Linked DNA regions of Homo sapiens. The protein of the gene in region 2 interacts with the protein of the main gene of each other region in a pairwise test. Each region holds a gene or a part of one and is shown on either strand. Other genes may lie near its edges. The genes, in order: RIMS3, BCL2L2-PABPN1 and BMF.

What was found.
Region 1: the proteins of BCL2L2-PABPN1 (region 2) and RIMS3 interact in a two-hybrid assay, tested with the Homo sapiens proteins (one large-scale study listed by BioGRID).
Region 3: the proteins of BCL2L2-PABPN1 (region 2) and BMF interact in a two-hybrid assay, tested with the Homo sapiens proteins (one large-scale study listed by BioGRID).

The regions. Positions count from the first base shown.
Region 1 is NC_000001.11:40,631,047-40,634,699, forward strand, and holds part of RIMS3 (regulating synaptic membrane exocytosis protein 3), read right to left. Parts: intron 2,136-3,653; coding exon 2,023-2,135; intron 1-2,022. UniProt on the Homo sapiens protein: Regulates synaptic membrane exocytosis.
Region 2 is NC_000014.9:23,313,295-23,316,947, forward strand, and holds part of BCL2L2-PABPN1 (BCL2L2-PABPN1 protein), read left to right. Parts: intron 1-3,653.
Region 3 is NC_000015.10:40,091,867-40,095,519, reverse strand, and holds part of BMF (bcl-2-modifying factor), read left to right. Parts: intron 1-1,644; exon of another isoform or gene 1,645-1,917; intron 1,918-3,631; coding exon 3,632-3,653. UniProt on the Homo sapiens protein: May play a role in apoptosis. Isoform 1 seems to be the main initiator.

The DNA.
Region 1 (3,653 bases), on a different chromosome or scaffold from region 2:
ACTTGGCTTCCTCATTTGCTGGGAGGGTCAAAGGTTGAGCACTGTCCTGATGGGGGCTGAGTGGGGACGTGTGGGTCAGGTGCTGCTCAGGTCAGACTGATGGGAAAGGAGTGGAGGCGAGGAGGCACCTCTGGAGGAGCTATCCTGGGGAGGAGCTGCTGGAAGCCAACACAGCCAACACCTAAGAGAGGGAGGGGGCAGGGAGGTTCTGTCTGAGAGCTCATGAAATGGGCCAGACTGAAGCTAACAGGACCAAGCGTAGGCTTCAGGTAGTACCGTCATCCCTCAGTATCCATGGGGGATTGGTTCCAGAACCCTACCTCGCCCCCACCCAGGGATACCAAAATCCTTGGATGCTCCAGTCTCTAATATAAAATGGCAGCCAGGAGGCCAAGGCAGGCGGATTGCCTGAGTTCAGGAGTTCAAGACCAGCCTGGGCAACATGGTGAAACCCCGTCTCTACTAAAATACAAAGAAAAAAAATTAGCCATGTGTGGCGGTGTGCGCCTGTAGTCCCAGCTACTCGGGAGGCTGAGGCATGAGAATTGCTTGGACCTGGGAGGTGGAGGTTGCAGTGAGCTGAGATTGTGCCATTGCACTCCAGCCTGGTGACAGAGCGAGGCTCTGTCTCTAAATAAATAAATAAATGGCAGCCAGGTACAGTGGCTTATGCCTGTAATCCCGGTACTTTGGGAGGCTGAGGTGGATGAGGTCAGGAGTTCCAGACTAGCCTGGCCAATACAGTGAAACCCCGTCTCTACTACAAATACAAAAAATTAGCCAGACATGGTGGCACATGCCTGTAATCTCAGCTACTCAGGAGGCTGAGGCAGGAGAATCACTTGAACCTGGGAGGTAAAGGTAGGTTATGGTGAGCCAAGATTGCGCCAGTGCACTCCAGCCTGGGCAACAGAGTGAGACTCCATCTCGAAGATAAAATAAAATAAAATAATAAAAATAGCATAGTGTTTGCATATAATCTATGCACATCCTCCCATATGCTTTATTTTATTCAGTTTTTGAGACAGGGTCTCACTATATTGCCTAGGCTGGCCTCAAACTCCTGGGCTCAAGCAATCCTCCAGCCTCAGCCTCCTGAGCAGCTGGGACTACAGGCACAGGCCACTGCAACCAGCTTCTTCCATATACTTTCAATCATCTCTAGATTATACTGGTGTGCCGCATAATGACATTTCAGTCAACAATGCATCATATACATGACAGTGGGCCCGTAAGATTATAATGGAGAATATATAGAAACCTGATATATGGTACTTGATATTGGCATTGCAGATCAAATAGGGGACATGATTGATATTCAGTAATGGTGCTAGGATATACGGTTTTCCATATGAAAAAATACATATAAATTTATATATATATATATATATATATATATATATATATATATATATATGCCATCTAGGTTTGTGTAAGTACACTCTATGATGTTCACACACTGAAAATGACTGTACTTATAATACCTAACACAATGCCTACATATCACTTCCTTTGCATGGATTCAGGGTAGTACTCGGCACACAGCAAATCAAATTTTGCTTTTTGCAACTCTGTGGAATTTTTTTTCCCTGAATATTTTCTATCCAAGGTTGGTTGAATCCACAAACACAGAACCCATGGATACAGAGGGCCAACTATACTTCCTAGCTGCAAGGAAAAGCGATAAGAAAATTACTAAAGGGCCTCTAGGTGCCAGGCGCTGTTGGGTGTAACAAGTCAAATAAGCCACAGTTCCTACACATTAAATTGAAATACCTCATGCAAAGCATCTAATAGGAGCTCAGTAAAGTATTGTTAGAGCATAGAACTCAAGTGGGTATTATTATTCCCATTTTAAATATGAGGAGACTGAGGTTCAAAGAAGGGAAGTGACTTGCTTAAGATCACAGAATTGGTGATAGAATAAACTCTACGATGGCCAATGCAGGGCCCCCACTGAGCTCACCCTTCCTGTCGCATGGTCACCATTACCCCACTCAACCTGCCCTTAATAAGACTCACCCATGGGTGGTGTTGCCAGTGTCTGTCGCCCCACAATCTGAGCTGGTCCCAGCCCATCCAGGAAATCGCTGAACTGGCTTTCAGCCCCTAGCCGGGTAGTGGGGAAGATGAACCTGCAGGAGGAGGCAGAGGGACGCGTGAGGGGGTCAGGGCAACCTGAGGATGAAAGTATAGCTGGCAGGCTGCCATGCTCTGGCCCTGGGGCCCTGGGCACGTCCCTCTGTGCCTCAGTTTCTCCTCTAAACAGTATGATTGCACTACTCTGGGAAAGGACAAACAGAACTGTTTATTTCTGCATACTGAAGAAAAATACTTTGATGTCACTTGAGAAAATAAACTAATAACAATACATAATGATGCTATTTAATCCTTAATGTCCAGGGACTTCTGAAGTGACCCTTACAAGGCAGGGCTTGCTGGACACCTGTGTCCTCACCAGGGCATATCAGTGCTAAGAACCAGAGACATAGGTCAGAAATTTCAATGCCTGGAACAAGTTACAAGAACTGAGGTTTGAGTTGACTGCAAGTTTGAAATCCAAGTCAAACATGAGGTGGTGCCCAGAACAGCAGCTAAGACCAAAATAACACAATTACAGGGTTGAGGTGAATGGCAAGTGATGGTGGTTGGTGGTTGTTCCATGACTGTGTGGGGGTCTAGAAACAGTAACAAGAAAAGCTGACAGTGATTGACAACTGGCCAGGTGCCAATGGTACATTAAAAATTCCACATGGGTTATATCTTTTAATCCTTACAACCACTCTGTGTGGTAGGAGCTATTATCCAGTCTTACAGATGAGAAAACAGAGGCTCCAAAAGGTAAAATTGCCTTGCCTGCAAAACAAAATTCATAGGGTTTTATATGTTGAGGATTAGGGCAAATGAAAAGTTCCAGACAAACAGAAAGCACTAAATGATAGTTCCGGTTGCTGCTGTTGTTATCATCAAGGGAAAAGTGCTACTTCTCTTTTGTGCTCCAGTCTAGATATTCTGGGTGTGGCCAGCTGAGAAAGGACAGATGAGGGAGGGTTGGCCCTGCCAACCCTCAGGGGCTATGATAGAATAAAGTTCTAAGATCTCCTAGAAAGGCCCAGGCTCCTGGCTGCAGAGATAAAAGGCTGTCCAAGGAAGAATCTCCTACTAGATAGTTTGGCCTTGAGTCCCCCTTGGCTAGCGGCCAGCAGGGAGGAAAAAGTAGGCTGTGTATGCTTGTCAGAGAGAGCCTGTGTCTCTCCCTGACTAGGCCCAGCCTCCACCCCACAGGGAGGGGCTTCAAGGCCCCACTTTTATTGGCCATGGTCAACAACAGCCTAATATCACATTCTTAGGACAATGATATCTGAGAAGGTTAAATAAAGAAACTTAGACTCTCAAGGTCACAGAATTTTAGGAGCTGGATATAGTGTGGAGATTGTGAACAAAGGTCATGGAATCAAATGGCCTTAATTCCAATTCTGACTCCATCACCACTTAATAGCTGTGACCTTGGGTAAGGTGGCCCACCCTCTTCCTCTCCCTGTTTCTCCACTTGTAAAATGGAGATAATGGTAATACCCACAACCCTCAGGGTTGCTGTAAGTGTTAAATGATCCCTGTTAGGCCGGGTGCAGTGGCTGTAATCCCAGCACTTT
Region 2 (3,653 bases):
AAATTTTGTGGCTTTTCTAAGAAGACAATGATATAGTGGACACCACCTTCTGTGACATCTAAAAGCAAATATGATGTTGAGTTTTGACCACTGTTTCTTCTAAAAACACCAAATGGAGATTCAGAAGGTCCTAAGCGAGAAATAACACTGGTGGAGAACTGTATGAAGGAAATATAATCCATCTATCGCTTTAGATAGCCCAAAATTTAATCCTGTATTAAACCAAATCATCATAGAGCAGCATATTTGGGCTAAATTGTGATGAACCTAGTAGAACACACTTAGGACCTTCTGAATCTATTAGAAGGTCCTAAGTGTGTTAGGACAAATGACACCTTCAATAAAGTTGGGCAACACTTAGTTACAATTATTAGTAAATGGATAGATTGTAGATATTCTGTGTTGTTACTTTTTTAAATTTTTATTTATTTATTTATTTTGAGATGGAATCTCGCTGTGTTGCCCAGGCTGGAGTGCAGTGGCGCGATCTCGGTTCACTGCAACCTCCACCTCCCGGGTTCACTCCATTCTCTTGCCTCAGCCTCCCGAGTAGCTGGGACTACAGGCGCCCGCCACCACGCCCGGCTAATTTTTTGTATTTTTAGTAGAGACGGGGTTTCACCGTGTTAGCCAGGATGGTTACCATCTCCTGACCTCGTGATCCGCCCGCCTCGGCCTCCCAATGTGCTGGGATTACAGGCGTAAGCCACCGCGCCCGGCCCTCTGTGTTGTAACTTAATAGCAAATCCTTTGAAGACTTTAAAAGCTGCTTTAAGGCTGGGCGCGGTGGCTCACGCCTGTAATCCCAGCACTTTGTGAGGCCGAGGCGGGCGGATCACGAGGTCAGGATCACAAGGTCAGGAGATCGTGACGGTCCTGGCTAACACAGTGAAACCCCGTCTCTACTAAAAATACAAAAATTAGTTGGGTGTGGTGGCGCAGTCCCTGTAGTCCCAGCTACTTGGGAGGCTGAGGCAGGAGAATCGATTGAACCCGGGAGACGGAGGTTGCAGGGAGCCGAGATGGCGCCACTGCACTCCAGACTGGCGACAGAGTGAGACTCCGTCTCAAAAAAAATAAAAATAAAAAATAAAATAAAATAAAATAAAATTTGCCTTAAATGTAGATACAGGAGAAATACAGAAATAAATCGACTATTTTGAAACTCAGCAGAAAATACACCATAATGAAATGCTGTGTAGTTTATTCAGTCAGTCATTTATGCAGCAAATATTCAAGCATCATCTGTGTGCTAAGCACAGTTACAGGCTCTGAGGTAGAGTGAACAGACAGATGCAAATCTCTGTTCTCATGTTGCTTATATTATAGTAAAAGAAACAGAAAACTTAACAATTATGTAATATGTGAGAAGGCGATGAATACCATAAAGAAAAATAATTCATTGAGGGGAATGTGTGTGTATATATACACACGTAAGAGTTCAATTTTAAATTGAGTGGTCAGAGAAGGCCTCATTTCTAGGGTGACTTTTGGGTAAAACTATGACAAACAAAATTGGAAAAATATATTTATTGACATGGGAAGATGTTTGTCTTTTTTTTTTAATTGGGTAAAAAAAGAAAATAGATTAGAAAATAATATATACAGTATGATCCCATTTTGCTAAAATATTTATATCTGTGTGCCTTGATATATATTTGCATATTGAAACTTTCAGGAAGTATATATGCCAAAATATCATTAGTGATTGTCTCTGGATAGTGGGCTTTATGAGTGCTTTTATTTTGTTCTTTTTGCTGTCAGTATTTTCTGATTCTTTGACAATGAACATATATTTCCAGATATTTCCAGTACAGTATATGAAAACAAGTTCTTTAGGTACAAAATTTTTAAAAAGTTAACGAAGCAGGATGGAAATTAAGCAGCCCAACAGAGGGTCCTTCACATTTAAATGGCTACCCCACTTCCATGCAAAGGCAAACTTAGGGAGCCAAGGTAAGCAGGACCAGACCACATTAGAAGATTATTGAGGTCTGCTCCAAGACAGAGGTCAGTAAAGGAGAAAGACTCCATGGTTCTACATCAGCACTGTCCAATAGAAATATAATGCAAGCCACATGTAGTTTTACATTTTCTAGTAACCTCATTTAAAATGCAAAAAGAAATTATTAAACCAATTTTAATATTTTATTTAGCCCAGTATATAAAAATATTATCATTTCAACATGGAATTAATATTAAACAGTTATTAATGAATTATGTCACATTCTGTTTTTCATACTAAGTCTTCAAAATTCAGTGTGTATTCAACACTTAGCACATCTCAAGTTGGACTACTCATGTTTCAAGTGGTCAGTAGCCATGTGTGACTAGTGGCTATCATATTAAAGTGTAGCTCTAGATCATAGGTCATTATTATAGTCTGTAAAAATTTCAAAGTAGTTCCAGATCATAGAGCATTATTGTAGTCTGTAAAAATTTCAAGAAAGGAGATAAAAATAGGGATGAAACTACCAAGACGTCAAATATTTATGTCGTTTGGGGAGAAAACTTTTCTGGGAAGAACTATGAATGCCCTCACCCATTTTTACTACTTAATTCTCCTTTTCTTAACTCCACTGAGCCATTCCCTTCTTCTTCTTCTTTTTTTTTTTTTTTTTTGAGATCGCCCAGGCTGGAGTGCAGTGGCGCGATCTCGGCTCACTGCAACCTCTGCATCCCGGGTTCAATTGATTCTCCTGCCTCAGCCTCCCGAGTAGCTGGGACTACAGGCGCAGGTCACCACGCCCAGCTAATTTTTGTATTTTTAGTTGAGACGGGGTTTCACCATGTTGGCCAGGATGGTCTTGATCTCCTGACCTCGTGATCCACCCACCTCGGTCTCCCAAAGTGCTGGAATTACAGGCGTGAGCCACTGCGCCCGGCCGATTCCCTTTTATTAATACATTTTCCCGTCTTCTGGGGCACAGTATCATTGGAGTTTCACTTTTTCCAAAACTCCATGGTCCTTTGTTTATAGGTTATTACTTAGAGAGAATTATAATGGGTGAATCTCACACCATTACATACCAAATTTCAAAAAATTCATTCTCAGAGGAAAACTTATCTCTTTGATATTCTCTATGCATCAACAACAGGCAGGATAATAAATACGAGTATTCATTCATTTATTTTTTTACTTTTTTAAAAAAATAAGATTATTCATTACTGAAGATGACTCATTCAGTTATCATTTACTGAGCACAGAGTGATAGGCAAAGGGAACACAAATATAAGATGGTTCCCTGTCTTTTACAGTTTATAGACTAATAGGGAAGGATCTTACAAGTCACCATTCAAAAAGCTTTTTTTTTTTTTTGAGACAGTCTCACTCTGCTGCCCAGACTGGAGTGCAGTGGCACGATCTCGGCTCACTGCAACCTCCGCCTCACGGGTTCAAGTCATTCTCGTGCCTCAGCCTGCTGAGTAGCTGGGATTACAGGCGCACGCCACCATGCCCAGCTAATTTTTGTATTTTTAGTAGAGACGGGGTTTCGCCATGTTGGCCAGGCTGGTCTCGAACTCCTGACCTCAGGTGATTTACCCTCCTCGGCCTCCCAAAGTGCTGGGATTACAGGCATGAGTCATCGCACCTGTCCCTCAAATAGCCTTTTAAATATGTTTGCTTTTTTCTTTTTTTGAGACAGGGTCCT
Region 3 (3,653 bases), on a different chromosome or scaffold from region 2:
CTGTGCCGGGTGCCTGAGGGTCAGAGGCCAAGTACACTCATTCCTGGTTCCCCTCTCTTCCCCTTCTCCTCCACACCCTCTTGTGGAAGATCCCACGTTCTCTGGTGTTTTGGTATCTTTGTGTTCTTCATCCTGTTCAGTGAAGGCCAACTTCCTTCCTCCTCACTGTTTCTCCCACTGGCCTCCCTTCAAGTCTTTTTTCTTTCCTTTCTAGTCAGGCCCTTTTGTTAAACTTTTAGGAAAAATTTTATTTATTGTTGTATTTTGTAATCAGGGCATTCTTTGATTATCTTGGTTTCCTCATGGAAAAGGGTCTTGTGAGGGCTGCCCTGAGGCGGGAGAAGGCCAAAGGGAGCCTGTGTGGTATCTGCTTGTAGCCAGAGAGGGCTCATGGGCCCATGGGTGGTTCCCAGGCCCTACACTCAGCTGACAGAATTCAGTTGTTGGAGCTCTGAGTTGTAATCCTGAAGGTAGTCGTGGATGACAAACTCCTTAGGGTTGGAGAGCACCTTTGTGGTTTCCAAAAGGCTGTGGCCTGGCTGCCACAGAACCACCTGGGCAGGATTGACCTCTGGCTTGGCCAGTGGGGTAAGACATTACTTTGGTGGAAAGAGATCGAAAGGGACTGAAGAAAACACCAACACGTGAAGTGTTTTCTAGCCTGGAGGATCATGAGTGACTTTATTTCCTCCTCTGTAATGTCTTGTATTTTCCAATATTTCTACAATTAACATGTATTGCTTTTATGATTAAAATATACAATAAATGATTTCTGATCTCTAAAATGTCACCAAGGGAGCTTGTTCAGTATACAGATTCCTGGGACCCTTCCTTGAAATTCTGACCCAGTGGGTCTGGGAGAGGCCTGGAGACTCTATACTTACAAGAGCACCTCAGCTGGCTTAGTGACACAGTTGGGTTTAGAAACCATTGATCTAGTACAATACCTGCATTTTCCTTATAAGCCAAGAGAGAACTCATGAGCAGGTTGATGGGAGATCCAACCCGAAAGCCAGGTCCTCTGATTCCTGGTCCCTGGGGATCCATGCACCATAGAGCCTTCCTTACCAATTCATGAGCCTTAAGGACTGTCACACGCAGAGGCATGGAAACTAGTTCCTTCCCAAGGGCCGGCCCATGTATCCTGCCTCCTGCACCTAGGCCTGCCTGGGTCCCCTGCAAGACCTCAGCCTTCCTGTCTGAAAGCACTCTCTGGCCCACAGCTGCTTCTGAGTCCCCCAACGCTCCCAGATGATGGGAGTCTGTGCCTCATCTTCAGAGATCTCAAGTTGCCCAGGGAGTAGGTGGCCTCCATTAGTGGAATTTGGGAGAAAACTGAGGCATACAGAGATGAGAATTGCCTCAGCCCCAAATCATAGAATTCTCATCTGCTTTCCTTGGCCATTGAGCTGTTTTGAGATGATTTAGTAAAGGGGAGGCTAGAGGGTCTGCTTTGGTATAAAGAAAGGTAGTGGCACTCTGAGCACAGAGATAATGGGAAGGGACATAGCTCTAGGGCCAGATGGTCTAGGTTCAGTCCAGTCCCTGCCACTTAAACTAGCTATGTGGTCGCTAAGTAATGGGCATGATAATGTGCCTCAAAATCACCTGGGGAATCTTCTGATGCTGGGTCTGCATTTCCAGGCAGCTCTCTGATGATGCTGAGGCTGCTAGTCCATGGACCACCCTTTGAGAAGCAAGGATGCAGAACACACAGAACAGAGCCTGGCACCTCCCCACCCCCGACTGCCACCCTAACCCCACGTTACTATTATGAGGTGATGATTGTTCTTGCCACCGGTCTTCTCAGACAAGCACCTCAGGAGAACTGGAATTCCAGCAGACTGGCCTCTCCAGGGATGAGTCTGCTCCTGGATTCTCCTCTTGTTCGGCCACATGACCTCTGCACCTGTCTCGGTCAGCAGCTGGGGAGGGGAGGAGAGGGGGTCTTTGGCCCAGCTGCTGCAGGCCGGAGGCTTCGGGTTTGCAGCTGAGTCCATTTTCACGCTGTTTTACTCTAACCAGATTTTGTTAAGCCGGGTGTGTTTCCTCTTTTTACTCATCTTTGTTTACAAAACACGAGGAAGCCATCCATCTCCCCACCCTCTGTCTGCCAGGCCTCTTCTGTGGCACGCCCGATTTCCCTTCCCCTCCGGGCAGGAGCTGCGCCTCCAGCTTGCCGGGTTGTTTTCCAGGCTCTTCCACGGGGGAAGGAGGAATGCTGTTGCCATGATGGACGGGGGCATTCCGTGTTCACCTGGGTTGTCAGGCCCTGAGGCCAGCTGCCTGGATGCCTCTCTTTTTGTGGCCTAGGGCAGCGTGAAGGGGAAGCCAGCAACCTGCATGGTGGCCCTGGGAAAGGTCAGGGAGGCCAGGGCTGGACAGAACCTGGAAGCTCTGGGAGTCCAGGCAACCTGGGCCCCCTTTCCAGCTGTGCCGCTGGCTTCCTCTCTCCTCTTCCCATCTGACCAGGAGTAGTTGCCTGGTGGGGGCTGGTGCTGTGGTTAAAGACAGTTTAAGAGAAGGCTTGGACACCTCATGTAAACTTGCTTGCTGACGGGGCCACTGAAGTAATCCAAGTCCAGCCCGTGCTGGCTCCTTTCTGCACACTAGGTTTTTATTCCCCTGTCCAGTGAGAACCCTGTGGAGAGGCCCCCGCCCAGTCCTCCTGCCCTGGCAGACAAAGAGAGAACAAAGACCGCCTCTTCCAGCACCCCCCAGTTTCCACCCCCCCAGGCCTCTCCTGGGAAATGGTACCTGTGTGGGCAGGGCACCAGCCCCAATCTGGTGAGCCACTGACCCCTGAACTTTGCCCCTAGCTTCCCAGCCTGACAGTAGGACCTGGGATAACCTCCAGAGCATAGTATATATTCTTTGTTTTTGTTTTGTTTTCAAGTATGTTCTTGCTTAATGTTTAATTGGCTCCAGTCAGTAGGAGAGCGCTCCAAGAGGGATTATTTATGGCTTACTGTCAAGAGCATCTATAAAAAGGGCAGCACCGAGCTGGAGATGCTGGGGAGGGAGAGCGGGCGGGCGCACAAGGGTGTGTGTGTGTGTGTGTGTGTGAGTCTGTGTGTGTGCGTGTTTGCACTGGATGAAATCAGATTTTTGCTGCCTCAGCAGTGTGGTTTAAATTGAAGATTAACCCTTTGACCTTCACAGTGTCAAATCACTTGCAGATGGAGGCCCCCCCTTTCCCCTTGTTCTCTGTGTTACTTTGGAGTCGGGGGAGAGAGGGGGGCACTTCTTCTCTTTCTGAAGCCAGTTTGTTGTTCATGCAGCTGAGGTTTGAGGGGCTCGGGAGCCAATCTGATTAAAAGCAGCACTTGGCTAAACTCTGGAAAATCCTGCAAGCAGGGGAAAAAGCTTAATCCTCTTGTGCATAGTGCATATAGAGCCTAGTCTTTTCTTTTTAATGTTAAAACTGCAATTGTTTTTGGAGAACTCAACTCTCTCCTCCACATGGCAGTGTCTCTTTCACCTCCCCCTCCTCCCCGCTGTGAGCTGTACTGATAGGATTAAAGTGCCAGCCGTGAGACTTGGAGATCTGAACTTTTACTGGAAATGAGAGGGAGTCGTCTAAGATTGCGTTTGGGAGTTATGTTGGTCTTTTTTTTTTTTCTCCCTTCAGCACCAGCAGAACCAAAATCGTG